2 linked regions of the Homo sapiens genome follow. The protein of the gene in region 2 interacts with the protein of the main gene of each other region in a biochemical or structural test. Each region holds a gene or a part of one and is shown on either strand. Other genes may lie near its edges.

What was found. The genes of interacting proteins can lie anywhere in the genome.
Region 1: the proteins of XRCC1 (region 2) and APTX form a complex in vitro, tested with the Homo sapiens proteins (2 studies listed by BioGRID).

The regions. Positions count from the first base shown.
Region 1 is NC_000009.12:32,972,096-32,977,639, forward strand, and holds the end of APTX (aprataxin), read right to left. Parts: intron 5,108-5,544; exon of another isoform or gene 4,294-5,107; intron 2,467-4,293; coding exon 2,363-2,466; intron 1,594-2,362; coding exon of another isoform or gene 1,589-1,593; exon of another isoform or gene 1,558-1,588; coding exon 1,403-1,557; 3' UTR 521-1,402; downstream 1-520. UniProt on the Homo sapiens protein: DNA-binding protein involved in single-strand DNA break repair, double-strand DNA break repair and base excision repair.
Region 2 is NC_000019.10:43,544,502-43,551,532, forward strand, and holds part of XRCC1 (DNA repair protein XRCC1), read right to left. Parts: intron 2,477-7,031; coding exon 2,383-2,476; intron 2,227-2,382; coding exon 2,094-2,226; intron 1,606-2,093; coding exon 1,551-1,605; intron 1,457-1,550; coding exon 1,317-1,456; intron 1-1,316. UniProt on the Homo sapiens protein: Scaffold protein involved in DNA single-strand break repair by mediating the assembly of DNA break repair protein complexes. Negatively regulates ADP-ribosyltransferase activity of PARP1 during base-excision repair in order to prevent excessive PARP1 activity.

The sequences.
Region 1 (5,544 bases), on a different chromosome or scaffold from region 2:
GTTAGTCTTGCATTTATACTGTTCAATTGATAAGAAAAATAATGAGTTGATGCATCAGAATCAATACCAACTTTGGATAGTGCCCAGGAACCATTGTAGAATATTAGATGCTCATCCACTAAAGGGGCATAACAATAGCACGTAACCTCATAGAGTTATGTACAGTGAGAATTCAATGAGATCACTTGAGTACAGTGTTTAGCATAATGCAGGACACACAGGAGTCAGACAAATGTGAGCTGCTATGATCATTAATTATATAATTATTACTATACCTATGTTCACTAAGTAACCACTGTGGCATCTTGTTTGTTTGTGAAAGACATTGAGGTCAAATGTCTCTATGGACTGTGGCTTTTTCTCTCCAGAAGAAGCTTTTGTTAAGGGTGTTTCCTTTTTTCTCACAACTTGAGTGAAAAGTCACATCCCCAAAGATATCCACAATTTCATCAAACCCAACTTTTTAGTTTTCCCTTCACCTTTAGTTCTAATATTATCCCAAAAAACAACTGAATACAACTGTTTTATCCAAATTTATTCTCAGGGAAAAAGAAAGTAGTGGCTCTACGCAACTTTTTCATTCACCAACCACCTTTCCATGCATCAGAACCTATGCTGTGATTGTTAGCTGAACTTCAATAGTTTCCACCTACTTAAGAGAGATGCCTCAAACAAATTAACTTTATTTTCAGACAACAGGTCCAAGAAGACTTCACAGCTCAATCATGACGAACATGTGGCTGTTTCCTCACAGCCAGGAACCCTCGGTATTAGAAGAAAACTCCAACCCCCCACACCATCATCTAGCCTCTTTTCTCACTGTGAAGAACTGATGAGACAGAATTCCTGAGAAGGGAACATTTAGGTAATCTGGGATAGAAGGGCATGGAAGGACTGGACAAACTAAGCCTCCCCATGAAGGAAGGGAAAAGAATATTACAAAACAGACTAACAGAAAACAAGACCCATCAGTATCTTCAGGATAAACAAGAGGCCACTCTAGATGCTCTGATTAAAGGTTGTCCATGCCTACAGAGGCGGAGGATAAATCTAAGAAACAGAAATGTATAACCAGCCCAATGCTTCCATACTCTGCATTAGGTCAGTGTGAACATGGCTTTGCTCCCAATGGTCAGACCTGACATGGGTCCTTCTGAAGATGGTGGGTCAGGTATATCCCAGCCACCCTCACCAGAGAATACATCTATGACAAACCCAAATTCCTAATCCTGAAGTACTTTGAGCCACTCTACATTGTGGCCACTCAATAATAGAATAAATTTGTGAAAAAGCTGCATGTTTTAATTTAGGAAATGAGTAGAAGTTCACAAGCAACCCAGAATAGGTGCCAGCAGTTTGCTCCAGTGGGCCACACCACAGCAGCAGCTCAGGCTCTGCAGAATCACTGTGTCCAGTGCTTCCTGAGATGTTCTTTCAGCTGAGGAATGGAAGGCAGCAGCTGCTGGCACTCATGACAACGAAGGGGCAGCTTCAAGAGCTCAGGCATCCCATCTCGGACAGTTACTCTACCAGCCTCTTGTACCATCTCGATCACAGCTGCAGGCAAGGAAGAAAAGTCAAATCCCAGCTACTCTGGAAAACCAATATGAGATACCAAAAAAAAAAAAAAAAAATCAAAAACGTGACTCCAATCAGTATGCCAGGCCAGGTATTCTACAGCTCCGTAAGCTTAGTTTAGACTTCCCTCAGGCAAAATGAGCTTAATCAGATTATAAATATGAGCAACCCACCTTTGAAATAATACACTCCTTCAGGACACACTCTAGGCAATCCATGTTACTCTGTCAAGAGCTCATCAGAGTGCTTTACCTCTGGTTGGCCCTTGGTAAATGCCAGCTGCCATTGTGAACACCCCATCAATGCTTAAGTTCTTACACACCAGGAAATGCTTTCCTGGTGTGTAAGAAAGCATCACACACCAGAAAATGCTTTCTTCTACATATACACAGGGTTCCCCCTGCTAATTCACCACTCCTGACAGGAGGCAGCCCCAAAGCTCCCACCCAACTGATGGCAGAAGAGACAAAGAATTGTCCACAGCTTTCTTATCCATGAACTCCACTAATTCTCACGGCAGCCTTTAAGTCCCCTTTTGTCACAATAAAACACTGACCCTGACATAATAGCTTTCTAGGTCCCCCAAGAAGACAACTCACAGCAAAGTGGCAATAATACTACAATCCAAATAATCCAGTTTCTTTTCACAGGGCTCGCTTTATAGGGAACACAAAGTTGTACATAGGTTTTTGAGGTCAGACTGTTATTCAGGGAAACAACCAAATCAAATATAAGAACAGCTCAGAAAATGAAACAAATGTGAAAACCAAGGAACACTGTTTACCTTGTGATTCTAGGAAGTATTCTGTATTGAAAGAATTCCAATGTTTTTTGTTTTTAAGGCAAGGAGAATCAAAATCCTGGCTGATCACATGAAGATGTACATGGCTAGTTGAAAGAAAAAAAAACTGAGCATTAAACTCTTTAACAACTATGGCTTAATCAAAATGACAAAGAGTATGAGTACATTGTATATTCATACTATTGAATACTCTTTGAATATTCATACTATTGAAGTGATAGTGTGTCCATTTAATTCAATTGATTCATTCATTTACTTAAGAATATTTAATGCTCAATAAGTATGTACTATGGCCAAACACTGTTCCAGGCACTGAGACTTTAGCAAGAAACAAAATGGGAAAAGCCTCTGCCCTTATAGAAATTGTACGCTAATGAGGAAAGACAAATAATAAATAAGCAAACAAATAAACAAACAAAAAAAAACTTAAAGAATTAACATTGCCAAGAAAAAATAAACAAGGAAAATGGGATAGAGTGCCCAGGGGTAGAAGCTGCCCTCTTTAGTTAACAGTGTTCAGGGAAAGCATCTCCCGGGAAGTGATTTGAACGGAGACAGCACCCAAGCAAGCTAGGTCTGTGGGAAGAGTGTCTCAGAAAGTGAGGAGGCCAAGAGCAGGGGCCCTGAGATGAGGAAAAGCTCAGTGCAACCAAGAAAGAGAAAGAAGGTAATATGGCCCAAATGTATGGCCTGAATTGTTGGAGCCAAGCAGCAGAAACGAGGCAGGAGCCAGGTCATAAAGCCTCTTAAAGGTGACAAAGGGTTTGCATTCTATTCTGAATCTACTGGGAAGCCATTGAAGGATTTTCAGCCGAAGAGTGCTACTATCTGATTTATACTCTTTTTTTTTGTTAACAATAAAAATTGAATTATAAAATGGACCACAATTTAAAAGTGGGCCTATTTTAATTTTATTATTCTTAAATTCATTCTTTTGAAAATGCAACCAGGTGCGGCGGCTCACGCCTGTAATCCCAGCACTTTGGGAGGCCGAGGCAGGTGGATCACTTGAGGTCAGGAGTTCAAGAACAGCCTGCCCAACATGGTGAAACTAACTACTAAAAATACAAAAAACTAACTGGGCGTGGTGGCAGGTGCCTGTAATCCCAGCTACTTGGGAGGCTGAGGCAGGAGAATCACTTGAACCTAGGAGGTGGAGGTTGCAGTGAGCTGAGATCATGCTACTGCACTCCAACCTGGGTGACAAAGTTAGACTCCATCACTAAAAAAAGAAGAAAAAGAAAAAGAAAATGCACTTTATTTTTGAAATGATAAAAGATTTAACTATGAGCTGACAAAGTAGAGGTCGGCTGACATTAGTGGGTCAACTCTTCATGTAGATATTTAAATGCTGTTTTTTCTGTATTACATCAAAATGATTTGCAATAGGAAATTGGAAAAGGGGAGCAAAGCAGAGTGCAAAGCATATACTGAGGTCTTTCCATGGGTATCTGATAGAATGCAGATTCAGCACAATAAAATGTAGACTGCAGCAGTGGCCTGTAAGTGTACTCCAAGCGTACCGTAAGAACCTATGTAAAAACCATTTTTTTCTTATTCCTAACAGAAAAACAAATTTTGTTTTGTTTAAACAATAAAATGTAATGGAAAGATCTGTACTGTAAAACTACTTGCTATAAACTATCACAAGGACAGAAAACCAAACACTGCATGTTCTCACTCATAGGTGGGAACTAAACAATGAGATCACTTGGACACAGGGCAGGGAACATCACATACCGGGGCCTGTCAGGGGGGTGGGGGGCTCGGGGAGGGACAACATTAAGAGAAATACCTAATGTAAATGATGAGTTGATGGGCGCAGCAAACCAACATGGCACATGTATACCTATGTATCAAACCTGCCTGTTGTGCACATGGACCCTAGAACTTGAGTATAATAAAAAAAAATAAAAACTACTTGCTGTAGCCCATGTGTTCAGTTTGTTCAACAACCTCACTCACACATGATGAATTACATGAATAGAAAGTCACCAAATAAGACTCAAGACAAAAAAATTATCTATCAACCTCCATATGAAAAGACCACAGCTTTAATGATTTATACAATCCTTAAGCTTAATATCTGGTCAGTATAGGTTTCCAAATCAAAATCAAGTCATAAGCTGTTACAATAACTGCATTATACTAACATTTTCTTTCCAGTATTTCTTCCTATGAGGGAAAAAAATCATCAGAAGCTTTCACTCTTGAAAAGCGTCCTAAACTAAAACAGTGTTCTTCTCCAAAACGAAAATACTCTACAAACAGTAAATAAAAGCTAAGCTAATTTCAACAGTCATATTTCCAAAAGTAAAATCTATTAAGTACAATACACCTGCACAAGAAATTACAAGAAATGATTACAGTTACAGATGCAAAATAACATCTAATTATCCCAGGCTTGTGAACATAATAATTAAAATCAAATTCATATGCTAGTCCAAATATTATGTACAATTTAGATAAGCTGGTCAAGTATTATTTGAATATACACCATATTTGTTAAACCTAAAATTATATTACCTTTTCTTGTCCTTTAATATTTGTAGATACACGCCAATATGAAAAAAAATGTAATTTCCATTTATGTATTAACAGAGAATTTCTACTGCACATGTTTTAAACCGTTAAAAAATAAAAAAGTCAAGGTACATTTTCACTTAAGAGATAAAAATAAATTACCAGAATTTTAATTGATAAAAGTTTCATATCAATTTATAAAAATGACCCAAGCACGTGGCTCATACCTGTAATCCCAGCTACTCAGGAGGCTGATGCAGGTGGATCACTTGAGGTCAGGAGTTCAACATTGGCCTGAGCAACATAGTGAGACCCTCATCTCTAAAAAATTGTTTTAATCAGCCAGGCATGGTGGCACACCCATAGCCCCAGCTACTCGGGAGGCTGAGGCAAAAGGATACCTGGAGCCGAGGAGTTCAAGGCCGCAGTGAGCTATGATCTTGACACTGTACTCCAGACTGGGAGAGAGGGTGAGACTCCCATCTCTTAAAACAAAAACGAAAACAAAAAATGAATAAAAAAATTCATTTATAAAAATGGGGGGGAAAAAACCTGGGTGCAGTGGCTCACACCTGTAATCCCAGTACTTTGGGGGGCCAAGGCAGGTGGATCATTTGAGGCCAGGAGTTCAAGACCAGCCT
Region 2 (7,031 bases):
CTCTCTCTCTCTTTTTTTTTTTTAAGACAAGGACTCACTCTGTCGCCCAGGCTGGAGTGCAGTGGCGTGATCTTGCCTCACTGCAACCTCTGCCTCCTGGGCTCAAGTGATTCTCCCATCTCAGCCTCCCCAGTAGCTGGGACTACAGGTGCATGCCACCAAGCCAGACTAATTTTTAAACTTTTTGTAGAGAGACGGGGTATTGACATGTTGCTCAGGCTGGTCTCAAACTCTTGGGCTCAAGCAATCCTCCCACCTCAGCCTCCTGAGTAGCCAGGACTACTGAGTAGCACACCACCACGCTCGGCTAATTTTTAAAATGTTTTGTAAAGGCGGGGGTCGGGGGGGGTCTCACTATGTTGCCCAGGCTGGTCTTGAACTCTTGGACTCAAGCAGTCCTCCCACCTCGGCCTCTCAAAGTACGGGGTGAGCCACCACGCCTGGCCTGCCTGGAGCCACTTAATGAGCTTAGTCCAGGCTGAAAACGTCAGTATCTGCCACTTCTTCACCTTTGCTCTCCTTTCCAACCAGTGCCTTTCTTGTTCTGACCTTTGGGGTGGCTCCTTCTTTCCATTTTAAGGTGACTCTCTAGGCCATCAATTTGCTGATGCCACTTTAGGGGCTTGGGAGAATCAAAGCATCTTCCTGCCCATCACCCACGAGGAACTGGGTGGAAACGGCTCTTCTGGAAGCCCCAGAACCACACCTCTGCACAGCCCGTGACTGTCTTTCCTCTGCTCCCTTCATTCTCGAAGAAGCTCTGCCTCCCTGCCCCTCATCCCACAACTCCCTGCAGAGTTTCCCCATTTCCTTTTGTTCTTATTCTTTTACACTGGAAATGCAAACACACAATGTGTGCAGACAGCATCCACGTCCAGAGTGATGGCTGATGTTAAAGCAGACACTGGTGTGCACCCACCCAGGGCCTGACAGAGAGCAGTGCCCCTGTCACCTGGTGTGCCCGGCTTCACCCCAGACCAACAGAACGGCACCTGAGCAAGTGAAGCACTAGCATGAGGGTGGGGCCCTCACCCCTGACGTGAAAAAAAGGAGGTCACACCTGGCACATGGCTGCGAGGGGAGTGGTCAGAACAAGAAATCTGGAGGGGAGAAAAAGGCAAGTCACAGAGAGGATGCTGAAAGGAAAGGAACAAGCCTGGCAGAACCTGAAGGTGCTGAGGCAGGGAGTGGGTTGAGGAAGGAGAGGGGAGGCAAGACACGGGGGCAGCAGTGACCCCAGGGCTGGCCAGGGCAAGTCCCAGCTGAGAACTGAGAAGAGAAAATGCCACTTCAGGAGGGATGGGGGGATTTCCCACCTGGGAGCTCAGGGACTGGCAGATCAGGAGGCTCCTGGTGTTCCTCACTGTCCGTGTTCTCATCCGTGGAGCCTGCATACGGGTCTTCCCCATTCTCCTCCTGGCCAGGGGGCAGTCTGTGTTCCTTCTGCTCTGCCACCCTGGGGGTGCCAAGAGGAGTAGAGAGTGAGCATGCAGAGCAGCCTCCCCTACACCCAAGGCCAGGGACACCCCAACCCCCAGCCCCAGCCCTACCTCCTCAGCTCATCCTCTGTGTCCCCAGAATCTTCCGCCCCATTGTCCTGTCCTTCTGCAAGTAGAAGCTCAGTCAATGCAAGGCTGCCTTGTCTCCTGGGAAGACTGGCAGCTCTCCCAGTATGGCACAGACCCAGGCATCTCATGCCCCCAGCCTCAACTGCCCTCCAGATCCAGTCGTCTGGGCCCCCAGCCCCTCCTCCCTCTGATCCAGGAGTCCAGGCCCCAGCCCCTCCTCCCTCAGACCCAGGAGTCCAGGACTCAGCCCTTCCTCCCTCAGACACAGGAGTCCAGCCCCCAGCCCCTCCTCCCTCAGACCCAGAAGCCCAGGCCCCCAGCCCCTCCTCCCTCAGACCCAGGAGTCCAGGCCCCCAGCCCCTCATCCCTCAGACCCAGGAGTCCAGGTCCCCAGGCTCTCTTCCCTCAGACTCAGGAGTCCAGGCCCCAGCCCCTCCTCCCTCAGACTCAGGAGCCCAGGCCGCAGGCCCTCCTCCCTCAGACTCAGGAGCCCAGGCCCCAGCCCCTCCTCCCTCAGAGTCTGACCTGACTGTACCCCCTCAATGTCTATATCTTCCTGGAGCACTGGTGAGGCTGCTTTGGTCTCTTCAGGGGTTGGGGGCTTCTGGGGTGAGCTGGGTCCAGCTGCCTGAGTGGGCTTGGTTTTGGTCTGGGGTTGCTAAGGAGGGAGAGTGGGTGGGTGAGGAGGGCAGGAACAGTGTGGGTGTGTTGGGGGGGTACCTGCAAGAGGCAAGAGTGGGAAGTTTGGGGTGCCACAGCGGACTCATGTCATCCTCCCACTACACCCTCCCCCACTGGACAGGGGGCATCAGACCTTCTGAGGAAGCTTGGGGGCTTCATCTCCGCTGCCACCGCTGTGAGAGGCCTCATCCTCCTCACTGCTGGAACCTGGCCCTGCCATGAGGTACCTAGGGGACAAATCGGGCCTCAGACAAACAGGCCCAAGGGAAGTGGGGAGGGCGTTCAGGAGGCAACAGCCATTGGCATTTACTAAAATACTCACTCTAGTGGGCCTCATGGTCTTGTTCCCAGCCCATTCTCTCCCAGCTCAGGAAGGCCCCAGTGAACCCAGTCAGTCTGGCCACCTGCCCTGCAGACCTGGGTACCCCCTTTCTTCCCCTCCCTCTTTTTTTTTTTGAGACAGAGTCCATTCCATCGCCAGGCTGGAGTGCAGTGGCCTCATCTCGGCTCACTGCAATCTCTGCCTCCAGGTTCGAGCGACTCCCCTGCCTCAGCCTCCCTAGTAGCTGGGATTACAGGTGCACACCACCATGCCCCGCCAACTTTTTGTATTTTAGTAGAGACACGGTTTCACCATGTTGGCCAGGATGGTCTCGATCTCCTGACCTCATGCTCTGCCCCCGTCAGCCTCTGAAAGTGCTGGAATTACAGGCGTTAGCCACCACTCCTGGCCGCTTTTTTTTTTTTTTAGACAAGATCTCACTCTGTCACCCAGGATAGAGTGCAGTGGCGTGATCTTGGCTCACTGCAACCTCCACCTCCCAGGGTTCGAGCGAGTCTCCTGCCTCAGCCTCCCCAGTAACTGCGATTACAGGCATGTGCCACCACGCCTGGCTAATTTTGTGTTTTTTGTGTTGTTTTGTTTTTTAAGTACATACGAGGTTTCATCACGTTGGCCAGGATGGTCTCGAACTCCTGACCTCGAGTGATCCACCCACCTCAGCCTCCCAAAGTGCTGGGATTACAGGCATGAACCACAGTACCCAGAATTCCCCTCCCTCTTGGGGAAGAAATGTCTCAATTCAGAAAGGAATGAAAAATCAGAACTTTCTCCTTTAAGAATCAAAGGCAGTTTCTCATTAGGAAAATACCCACCATTTAAGGGGAAAATCTCAAAGCAAACACATTTTAAAGACTACAACACTATAATCATGGTTCCTTAAGCCACTAACATTCCAGGAAAAGGATTTTCCTAGCTCTAACAACAGTAGCAGGTTCCCGTCCGGGAGGGAGGTGGGGGGCCAGCCGCCCCGTCGGGGGGGAGGTGGGGGGCCAGCCGCCCCATCCGGGAGGGAGGTGGGGGGGTCAGCCCCCGCCCGGCCAGCCGCCCCTCCAGGAGGGAGGTGGGGGGCGCCTCCGCCCGGCCGCCGCCCCGTCCGGGAGGTGGGGGGCGCCTCTGCCCGGCCGCCCCTTCTGGGAAGTGAGGAGCCCCTCTGCCTGGCCACCACCCCGTCTGGGAGGTGTACCCAACAGCTCATTGAGAACGGGCCATGATGACGATGGCGGTTTTGTGGAATAGAAAAGGGGGAAAGGTGGGGAAAAGATAGAGAAATCAGATTGTTGCTGTGTCTGTGTAGAAAGAAGTAGACATGGGAGACTTCATTTTGTTCTGTACTAAGAAAAATTCTTCTGCCTTGGGATGCTGTTAATCTATGACCTTACCCTCAACCCTGTGCTCTCTGAAACATGTGTTGTGTCCACTCAGGGTTAAATGGATTAAGGGCGGTGCAAGATGTGCTTTGTTAAACAGATGCTTGAAGGCAGCATGCTCATTAAGAGTCATCACCACTCCCTAATCTCAAGTACCCAGGGACACAAACACTGCGGAAGGCCGCAGGGTCCTCTGCCTAGGAAAGCCAGAGACCTTTGTTCACTTGTTTATCTGCTGACCTTCCCTTCACTATTGTCCTATGACCCTGCCAAATCCCCCTCTGTGAGAAACACCCAAGAATGATCAAAAAAAAAAAAAAAAAAAACACAACAGTAGCAGGTTGACACTTACATGGGACTTCCTACATGCCAGGTAGCACGTGACAAATACTGAGTCACTGAATCCTGGGGTAGGTCCTATTTTTGGCCCCATTTTACAGGTGAGGAGACTAAGGCACAGAGAGATTATTTAATCTGCCCTAAGCCACAGGGAAGGTATGCAGACACAAATGAATGTATTAGCTCCATTTTTCTGAGACATACATGTTAAGACCCTTCTGCATTTAATTTGGTTGTTTTCAAGCTGGTGAAATGCTGTTTAGGTAAGTCACACTCATAAAACGGTGCCTACAGGAGATTCAGAGGATTTAAAATGTAGTAGTTCATTAACAGTCAATAGCAGGTTTACTTAACTTTTTCTTCAAAGTGCTCTATTCAAAGATTAAAAAAAAAACTAAATTTGTGCTTATTAGGTATGGAGAGTCATCCTCTTGGGGTCTTCCTTCTATAGTTGAATTTTTATTTTATTTTTATTTTTTGAGACAGAGTCTCGCTCTGTCCCCAGGCTGGAGTGCAGTGGCATGATCTCGACTCACTTCAACCCCTTCCTCCCAGGTTCAAGGGATTCTCCTGCCTCAGCCTCTAGAGTAGCTGGGGCTACAGGTGTGCGCCACCATGCCCAGCTAATTTTTGTATTTTTTGGTACAGATGGGGTTTTACCATGTTGGCCAGGCTGGTCTCAAACTCCTGATGTCACGTGATCTGCCCACCTTGGCCTCCCAAAGTGCTGGGATTACAGGCGTGAGCCACTGCACTCAGCCAAATTTTTATTTTTGAGATAAGGTCTTGATTTGCCACCTAGACTGGAGTGCAGCGGTGCAATCATGGCTCATTGCAGCCTGAACCTCCTGGGCTCAAGTGATCCTACCACCTCAGCCTCCCAAGTATCTACGACTACAGGTATGTGCCACCACACCTGGATAATTTTTTTCATGTTTTGTAGGGATGGGGTCTCACCACGTTGCCTGCATCATATAGTTATTTTTTTTTAGTTTATAAATGAGTACAAGCCAGAATTTTTAAAAATATAAAATGCTTTGTGAATTCTTTTTGTTAAGACCAGTTGCAAATCCAACACTGTTTGTCTTTTTCCCTTTCTTTCATGCCCTCCTTAAGCTCTCCCAGGCAGATAATAACCCAAATCTGGTTCCTTCTGCCCCAGATATAGCACCAGCCCATCCCCTCTTCTGTTCCTGAGGCCCCAGCCTACTCAGGAGTCCCCACCTGCAGCCTCCCCTTGACACTTCATCCCTCCCAACAGAGCCTGCCCCTGCCCCCATCAAACCTTCTGTGACTCCCCTCTGCTCACAAGAGGAGGCCTCTGGAGCTGGATGGGCTTCAGAATTTTGAATCTTTCAGGTTTTAGAGAGGCAAATGGCTGGCATACAGATTGTTACATAAACTCCCAGGAGGGCCTGGGGGAGCACCCCATGATCAAACCCACTAATATTTCTGCAGTTAAGACCATGACACACTTAAGGGGATAAAAAAAAAAAAGTCCGCAAATAGCCTCACATTAGTTCAGGATGACTGCAGCGAAATGAGTTTGTGCTGAACCTAGAAAAGAACTTTCAGCTTCTAGAGATGTTTGGATTCCTGAATAACAGATGAGGGTTCTGTGAAGCTGCATGGAGCCCAGTGTGTAGCCTGGGCTCCGGAAGCCCCTTCTGACCTGAGCCCACCCACCTCACAGCCTCGCTATCCCCCAAGGCAAATAATTTCTCAAATACACCAGGTACAACTAACTTCTGAACACACTCAGGCCATGGAGTACAATCCAGTCTCCCCTCCAATTCATGGACCTCAGATATGAGCTAGCCTTTGCTCAGTCCAAAGCCTTCTGTGGTTCCTAATGCCCCAGTCCCATTTTTCCTGCCACTTCTTGCCCCTGTGTAAGCTCAGCCTCACCTACAACTCCAGGCAGACAACAGGCTGACCTGACCTTGTCTCCTCTGCCCAGCATGTTCTCTGCCTCTGTTCAGCCTGAAAAACCTCTCTTGGACCTTGAAGACCCCTCGCTCTCTGCGGGCCACCCTGTGGGGCTTCCACTGCACTGTTACAACAATTCTGATCCCTCATCAAAGTGAGAAGCCTTCAAGGGCAGGGCTCAATGACTGGATCCTCAGCCTTGCACATTCCAGCCTGGCACCAAGCAGGGGCTTCTGGGACTCATTTTGGTTTTTGGGTTTTTTTTTTCTTGTTGAGATGGGAGTCTCGCTCTGTCACCCAGGCCAGAGTGCAGTGGCACGATTTTGGCTTCCAGGTTCAAGCGATTCTCCTGCCTCAGCCTTCCGAGTAACTGGGATTACAGGCGTGCGCCACCAAGCCCAGCTAATTTTTGTGTTTTTAGTAGAGATGGGGTTTCACCATGTTGGCCAGGCTGGTCTCGAACTTCTGACCTCAAGTGATCCACCTGCCTCAGCCTCCCAGAGTGCTGGGATTACAGGCGTGAGCCACTGCACCGGGACTCACTTTGAATGAATGAATATGGACCCTAACACTTGTTCTCCCACCCCTGAGTTTTTGCACAAACTGCTCCTCCAGCCTTTTCTGATAAGCAGGCTTCACAGAGCCCTCTGTGACCTCCCAGGCAGGTCCTCCTTCCCTCATCTGGAGTACCCCAGCCCCTGCCCCGCTCCTCTCAGTAGTCTGCTGGCTCTGGGCTGGGACCACCTGTGTTCTCCGCTGGCAGGCCCCAGTCTGACTCCCCTCCAGATTCCTGGCATTGCCCAG